Homo sapiens: one gene and its partner. The protein of the gene in region 1 purifies or fractionates together with the protein of each later gene. This does not show direct contact. Each region holds a gene or a part of one and is shown in the gene's direction. Other genes may lie near its edges. The genes, in order: NQO1 and NIT2.

The links.
Region 2: the proteins of NQO1 (region 1) and NIT2 fractionate together in Homo sapiens (co-fractionation; one large-scale study listed by BioGRID). This does not show direct contact.

Annotation. Positions count from the first base shown.
Region 1 is NC_000016.10:69,716,249-69,720,068, reverse strand, and holds part of NQO1 (NAD(P)H dehydrogenase [quinone] 1), read left to right. Parts: intron 1-1,534; coding exon 1,535-1,699; intron 1,700-1,815; coding exon 1,816-1,946; intron 1,947-3,820. UniProt on the Homo sapiens protein: Flavin-containing quinone reductase that catalyzes two-electron reduction of quinones to hydroquinones using either NADH or NADPH as electron donors.
Region 2 is NC_000003.12:100,340,989-100,344,808, forward strand, and holds part of NIT2 (omega-amidase NIT2), read left to right. Parts: intron 1-84; coding exon 85-173; intron 174-3,820. UniProt on the Homo sapiens protein: Has omega-amidase activity. The role of omega-amidase is to remove potentially toxic intermediates by converting 2-oxoglutaramate and 2-oxosuccinamate to biologically useful 2-oxoglutarate and oxaloacetate, respectively.

The DNA of each region.
Region 1 (3,820 bases):
GTTGCCCAGGCTGGTCTTGAACTCCTGGGCTCAAGCAATGTTCCCGCCTTGGCCTCCCAAAGTGCTGGAATTAGAAGCGTGAGCAACCGTACCTGGTCAACAGTCTCTAAAAATTTTTTTTTATGACAAGGTGTCACTATGCTGCCCATGCTGGTCTCCATCTCCTGGCCTCAAGGGATCTTGCCGCCTCAGCCTTCCAAGTAGCTGGATTACAGGCTCCAGCCACTGTGCCCAGCCAGTTTAACTCATTCTTTTTTATATATTTTTTACTTTTATCTTAATTTATTTATTTTTCTGAGACAGGGTCTTACTCTGTCACCCAGGCTGGAGTGCAGTGGCAAGATCTCAGCTCACTGCAACCTCTGCTTCCTGGGTTCAAGCGATTCTCCTGCCTCAGGCTCCCGAATAGCTGGGATTACAGGTGCCCGCTACCACACCCAGCTAATTTTTGTATTTTTGTAGAGACAGGGTTTCACCATGTTGGCCAGGATGGTCTTGATCTCTTGACCTCGTGACCTGCCCGCCTCAGCCTCCCAAAGTGCTGGGATTACAGGCTCGAACCACCGTGCCTGGCCAACTCATTCTTGTTAACAGCAAAATATCCTGTAGTGTGGATGTACCCATAATTTCTTAAAATGTTCCCCATAGACAATCAGGTTATATCTAATTTTTGCCAGTGAAAAGCATGGTGTAATACACATCTTTGCTCTTATAGCCTGAAGCTTTTAGTCTGTAGAACAGATTCCCCCAAATTGGAGAGCGAGATAAAAGATTTATGTGTCTTTAAAGTTTCAAGAGATTCTGCCTCATTACTTTCCCTAAAGGTTGAGGCAGTTCTTATCCCCACCAGTAAGGTGCCAATTTTTCTGTTGGTACAATCTTAATAACCCTGGGTGTTATTTGTTTTACATTTTGTGGGTAAATGTAAACTCACGGTAAATGTAAACACAGTACCCATGTAAACGAATGGGTAAATGTCTCATTTTAATTTTGCTTTTCCTGACAGGTCACGCAGAGCATCTTTTTTTTTTTTTGAGACGGAGTCTCCCATTGTCACCCAGGCTGGAGTGCAATGGTGCAATCTTGGCTCACTGCAACCTCCCCCTCCCGAGTTCAAGTGATTCTCCTGCCTCAGCCTCCCAAGTAGCTGGGATTACAGGTGCCTGCCACCACACCCAGCTAATTTTTGTATTTTTAGTAGAGACAGGGTTTCACCATGTTGGCCAGGCTGGTCTCAAACTCCTGACCTCAGGTGATCTGCCCACCTTGGCCTCCCAAAGTGCTGGGATTACAGTTATGAGCCACAGAGCCCAGTTGTCAACATTATTTATTAAATCAGCCACTGATTTAAATGCTTCCTTTAATCTTCAGTGCTTTTAAGGGGAAAATACATTTCTGGCTACAGGAGATGGAATGCAATAACCTAATGTCAAACAAAGCCGCCCCCTCCTTTACAGACTGCAACTCCCCTGTAGCTGAAGGTTTGCTGGTTGGTAATGGGTTTTCCGTGTGTGCTTTGTGTGTGTCTCTGTAGGCAGAAGAGCACTGATCGTACTGGCTCACTCAGAGAGGACGTCCTTCAACTATGCCATGAAGGAGGCTGCTGCAGCGGCTTTGAAGAAGAAAGGATGGGAGGTGGTGGAGTCGGACCTCTATGCCATGAACTTCAATCCCATCATTTCCAGAAAGGACATCACAGGTAGGAGGAGTTCCTCCTCCCCTCTTTAATTAGTTCTTTGCGGATCTCCTTGCCTGTGGGTCCTCTGGCCCAGCTTTGGCCCCTCTGGCCCCAGCCTCTCTTTTTCTTCTCTGCAGGTAAACTGAAGGACCCTGCGAACTTTCAGTATCCTGCCGAGTCTGTTCTGGCTTATAAAGAAGGCCATCTGAGCCCAGATATTGTGGCTGAACAAAAGAAGCTGGAAGCCGCAGACCTTGTGATATTCCAGGTATGGGGGGACATCGGAAGGGGTGTCAGGGACATTTGCGTGCTTATTGTCCTAGACATGTACCTAATTAGCTATGAGATCTTAAACAGTTACCCACTTTACTGCATTCTCTGCAAATAAGGGTGATTACTTTAAAGGTGCAGTATTACATGGATTTCACAGATATTGGGAATCTGGCTGTATTACTGTTGCATGTGTAAATGCAACTGCAAGGCCAGGCACGGTGGCTCACGCCTGTAATCCCAGCACTTTGGGAGGCCAAGGCAGGTGAATCACAAGGTCAAGAGACCAAGACCATCCTGACCAACATGGTGAAACCCTGTCTTTACTAAAAGTACAAAAATTAGCTGGGCGTGGTGGCATGTGCCTGTAGTCCCAGCTACTCTGGAGGCTGAGGCAGGAGAATCACTTGAACCCGGGAGGTGGAGGTTGAAGTGAACCAAGATTGCGCCACTGCACCCCATCCTGGTGACATGGCGACAGAGCGAGATTCTGTCTCAAAAAAAAAAAAAAAAGAAAGAAAGAAATGCAGCTGCAGAGATGATGTACAGTCCTTGAGCTTGCTTTCTTCCAGGTACTTAGTCTCCCCTTCAGTTAGCGATTCCTTCAGTTAGCGATTCCTTCAGTTAGCGAATCCTGCGGTTAGCGATTCCTGTTGGACTCTCTCAAAATTTGCAGTTCTCCTCCTTTCTCCATAAGAATCCCAAATACTTTGTAGAATAATCCATGAGACATTGACTTCTCTGCCATTGTAGCCTGCCAGCTGAAGGGGGCTTTGAAACCCTGCTGAATGTGTTCCTGCAGCAAACCACGGCCTTTCTTCTTCGGGAAGCTGCCTTACCGTTTAGCAGACAATGCTGGGATTGTGCGTGCATCTCGTCAGTGATCTTTCCTATAAATGTGACTGTACTCAATGACTTTGCTTTTACAATTCCAGCCAGTCTTTTGATATTGAACATAGAATGTATATGATCCTGGAAACCACGAGGAGGGTGGTACAGGCTGTGTTTTTTTTTTCTCTCTCTCTCTCTTTTTTTTTTTTAGTTATTCAATCAGCTACAAAACATCCAATCCTTGAAGTCCTTTATTTTACCCACAGGCCTGTTGCTAAGAATCAAAGCCACATGCCACTAGCCAGTACCCCAAAGGACGGCTTTAAAAAAAAATTAAATTGGAGACAAGGTCTCACGGTCACCCAGGATGGAGTGCAGTGGCATGATCTCTGCTCACTGCTGCCTCAACCTCCTGGGCTCAAATGATCCTCCCACCTCAGTCTCCCGAATAGCTGGGACTATCAGTGCACACCACCATGCCCTGCTAATTTTTTAATTTTTTTGTACAAATAGGGTCTCACCATGTTGCCCAGGCTGGTCTCAAACTCTTGGGCTCAAGTGATCTGCCTGCCTGGACCTCCCAAAAGGCTGGGATTATAGGCATGTGCCTTTCATATCTTTAAATCATGAATCAAGGATAAGAAAACCTCCTGGTATAGTCCTTACTCTGCTTTTATTAGGATAAGAGGTCAGACAAGACTTTCTCATGGGAAGTCCCTGATGAACCTTAGTCACCCTAATTATTATTTATTATAATTTTTATTTTTTAACATTTTATTTATTTATTTATTTGTTTTTGAGATGGAGTCTCGCTCTGTTGCCCAGGCTGGAGTGCAATGGTGCAATCTCGGCTCACTGCAACCTCCGCCTCCCGGGTTCAAGCCATTTTCCTGCCTCAGCCTCCCAAGTAGCTGGGACTACAGGCATGCACCACCACGCTTGACTTTTTGTATTTTTAGTAGAAACAGGGTTTCCCCATGTTGGCCAGGCTGGTCTCAAATTCCTGACCTCAAGTGATCCACCCACCTTGGCCTCCAAAAG
Region 2 (3,820 bases), on another chromosome or scaffold:
CCAAGTTATCAGGCTTTTATCCCTTTCTCACAAAAGAATTGCTCTATTCTTTTTCTTATGGTATGTTTCTTCTCTCAATGAAAGGCTCTATCCCTGAAGAGGATGCTGGGAAATTATATAACACCTGTGCTGTGTTTGGGCCTGATGGAACTTTACTAGCAAAGTATAGAAAGGTAAGTAGGAAGTGTGGCATAAGAATTTGTTATCTCTAAGCCAGCAACAATGTGTGGAAAAAAAATTTGCTATGAAGTTCCCTAGTCCCTCTCATTATATCACACATGTATTAGGGTTTTGACTGATTGGCACAGGTGGTTATTCTTGGCCATTTGCATTTTTATATAAGTTTTAGACTCAGCCTGTCAATTTCTGCAAAGGAACAAGCTATAGTAATTTTTTTTTTGACAGAATCTCGCTCTGTCACCCAGGCTGGAGTATAGTGGCACAATCTTGGCTCACTGCTAGCTCTGCCTCCTGGGTTCACACCATTCTCCTGCCTCAGCCTCCCGAGTAGCTGGGACTACAGGTGCCCACCACCATGCCCAGCTAATTTTTTGTATTTTTAGTAGAGACTTGGTTTCACCGTGTTAGCCAGGATGGTCTCAATCTCCTGACCTCATGATCCACCCGCCTCAGCCTCCTAAAGTGCTGGGATTACAGGCATGAGCCACCGTGCCCAGCCAACCTATAGTAATTTTTATTAGTATTTCATTGAATATATAGAGAACACTGTGGGAAGAGTTGCCATCTTTTTAGTATTAAATGCGTATACATGACCAGGTGCAGTGGCCCATGCCTGTAATCCCAGCACTTTGGGAGGTCTGAGTAAGTGGATCACCTGAGGTCAGGAGTTCAAGACCAGCCTGGCCAACATGGTGAAACCCCATCTCTACTAAAAATACAAAATTGGCTGGGTGTAGTGGTGCACACCTATATAGTCCCAGCTACTCAGGAAGCTGAGACAGGAGAATTGCTTGAACCCAGGAGGTGGACGCTGCAGTGAGCCAAGATTGCGCCACTGCACTCCAACCTGGGCAAGACAGAGCAAGACTCCATCTCAAAAAAAAAAATCATATACATTTAGTATCATTAAGTCTTCTTGATGAGTTGACCCTTTTATCATTATGAAATATCTCTTTTTTTTCTTGTAATACCTCTTGTCTTGAATTCTGCTTTATCTCTGCTATCACTATAGCCACTCCAGCCTTCTTATGCCTAATGTTTGCTGGTACGTGGTTTTTCCAGTTCTTTGTTCTCAAGCTATATGTGTTTTTATATTTTAAGTGGATCTCTTTTGTCAACAGCATATAATTGTATCTTAATTTTTTCTTTATTCTGACAATCTGTGTCTTTTAATTGAAGTGGTTAGTCCATTTATATTTAATGCACTTATTGATATGATTGAATTTAGGGATAGAGACATTTTACTTTTTTTTCCCTTTGTTCATCTTTTCTGTATTATTTTGGATTAATTGAATATTTTTTAGAGTTCTGTTTTAATTTATCTATTGGCTTTTTAGTTATACATCTTAGCTTTTTTTTTTTTTCCAGTTGTTGCCCTGGGAATTATCATATGCATCCTTAACTTTTCACAGGCTACTTAAGAGTTCATATTATATCATTTCATGTGAAATTTAAGAACCTTATAATGATATAGGTCCATTTTTCTACCCCACTGCCCCTGCCCTCATTCTTTATGCTATAGTTGTCATTTGTATTCCATGTATATATGTTATAAATCCCACAAAACAGGAATACTTGATTTAAATAGTCATATGTATTTTAAGGAAATTAAGAAGAAAAAAATCTTTATGTTTACCCAAATATTTATCATTTCTGGTGTTTTTCTTTCCTTCCTGAAGATCCTCCTTCTATCTGGTATATCCTTCAGACCAAAGGATCTCATTTAGAATTTTTGTTCTGAGGATCTGTTAGCTAGGAATTCTGTTAGTTTTTCTTTATGAATATATCTTTACATTGTTTTCATTCTTGAAAGATATTTTTGCTGGAATAGAATTTTGGATTGATAGTTTTCCTTTTTTTCCACTAGTAGTTGTTATCTAGCCTTTTTTTTTTTCTTCCCTGATGAGAAGTGAGTAGTAATTTGTATTGTTCCCTCGGATATAATTTGTTGTTTTTTCTCTCCTTCTTTCAAGTGTTTTCATAATCTTTAGTTCTTAGTATTTTGACTCTGATATGCCTAGATGTGGTTTCCTTTGTCTTTGCCTTCCTTGGTACTTCTTGAAACTGTAAATTTAAATCTTTCACTGTGTTTGGGAAGTTTTTTGACACTATTTTGTTAAATATTTTTCTGTTCCTTTTTCTTATGGAGCTCCAGTATATGTATATTATATTTTTAAATATTTTTCCAAGGTCACCAGGCTCTGTTTTTCTGTTTTTGTCTTTCCAATACTTTTTCCTTCTCTTCTACAGATTAGATAATTTCTGTTGATCTTTCAGACTTATTCACTGTTTCTTCTGTCTTCTTCAATTTCCCGTAAGCCAACCCAGTGAAATTTTAAAAAATTGAGATATTAAAATTTTCAGTTCTGAAATACCCCTTTGCTTCTTTTTTATAGTTTTTATTACTCTATGATATTTTCTATTTGTTCATTAAAAGCATATTTTTCTTTACAGTGTTGAGCTTAGTTAGTTTCTATAGCTGCTTTAAAGTCTGATAATTATCACATCTGTGTGCCACAGAATGAGACTATTAGGCCTTTAAAAGGCCCCTGATGTAAATAAACTCATATCCAAGCAAACAACAAGAAAAAAATTATAACATCTGGGTCATGGCAGGATCTGTGTTCATTTGATTGCCTTTTCTTTGCAGTTTGGATCACACTTCTGTTTCTTTGAGTATCTACTAATTTAAGATTGTACAGTGGATTATATATTGTAGAGATTCAAGATGCTATTACAGTCTTCCAAAAAGTGTTGAATATTTTGTTTTAACTGATGGTTAACTTGGCCGCACCCAAACACCAAACTCTTATCTTCTTTGAAACGTGGGCAGCAACTTTAGCTGCTCTGTTCTATCTGGTTGTTCTGCCCCACTTCTATTTAACTCAGTGATCAGCCAGAGATTTAGAAAGATTTTATATGCAGAATTTAGGGCTCTCCCTCTTTGCTTTCTCCATTTCAGGATTTCCCCCCTTGGTTTCCAGCTCTGGTTCTTCAAGCCAGTGTGATTATGGGTCATTTTCACCACTACTTATCACAGCAACTGGGACCTTGCTTCAGGGTAGCAGCTGTAAATAGCACCAGGAAGTTCACCCAGGGCTGTTCCCTGCTTCCACATGTCTGTGTTCTTCTCTTCAGATTTTGTCTGCTTTGTTTTGGTCATTCTTCAGTGCTTTAAGTAGTTGTGCCTTTTATTTTGTCCAGAGTTCATAGTTAACCACAAGAAAACTGGTCTGATAGGAGCTACTGTGTACCTGCTGGAAGAACAGCCAGCATTGGACTATTAACCCAACTCTTTGAAGTATATCTTTTTAGTATTAAGTTTTCCAGTCCATGAATGTGGTATATATCCTGACATTTATTACGCTTTCTTTACTTTCTCTCAATTTCTTTTTATAGTTTTTTGGGTATAATTTTGTTTAACATTTGTGAGATTTATTCCTCATTGGTGTTTTTAGATGCTCTTTCATTTTCTGTTTTTGTTTTTGTTTTTTTGAGATGGAGTCTTGCTCTGTCGCTTAGGCTGGAGTGCAGTGGTGTGATCTTGGCTCACTGCAACCTCCACCTCCCTGGTTCAAGCTGTTCTCTTCTTTCAGCTTCCCAAGTGGCTGGGATTATAGGCATGCACCACCATGTCTGG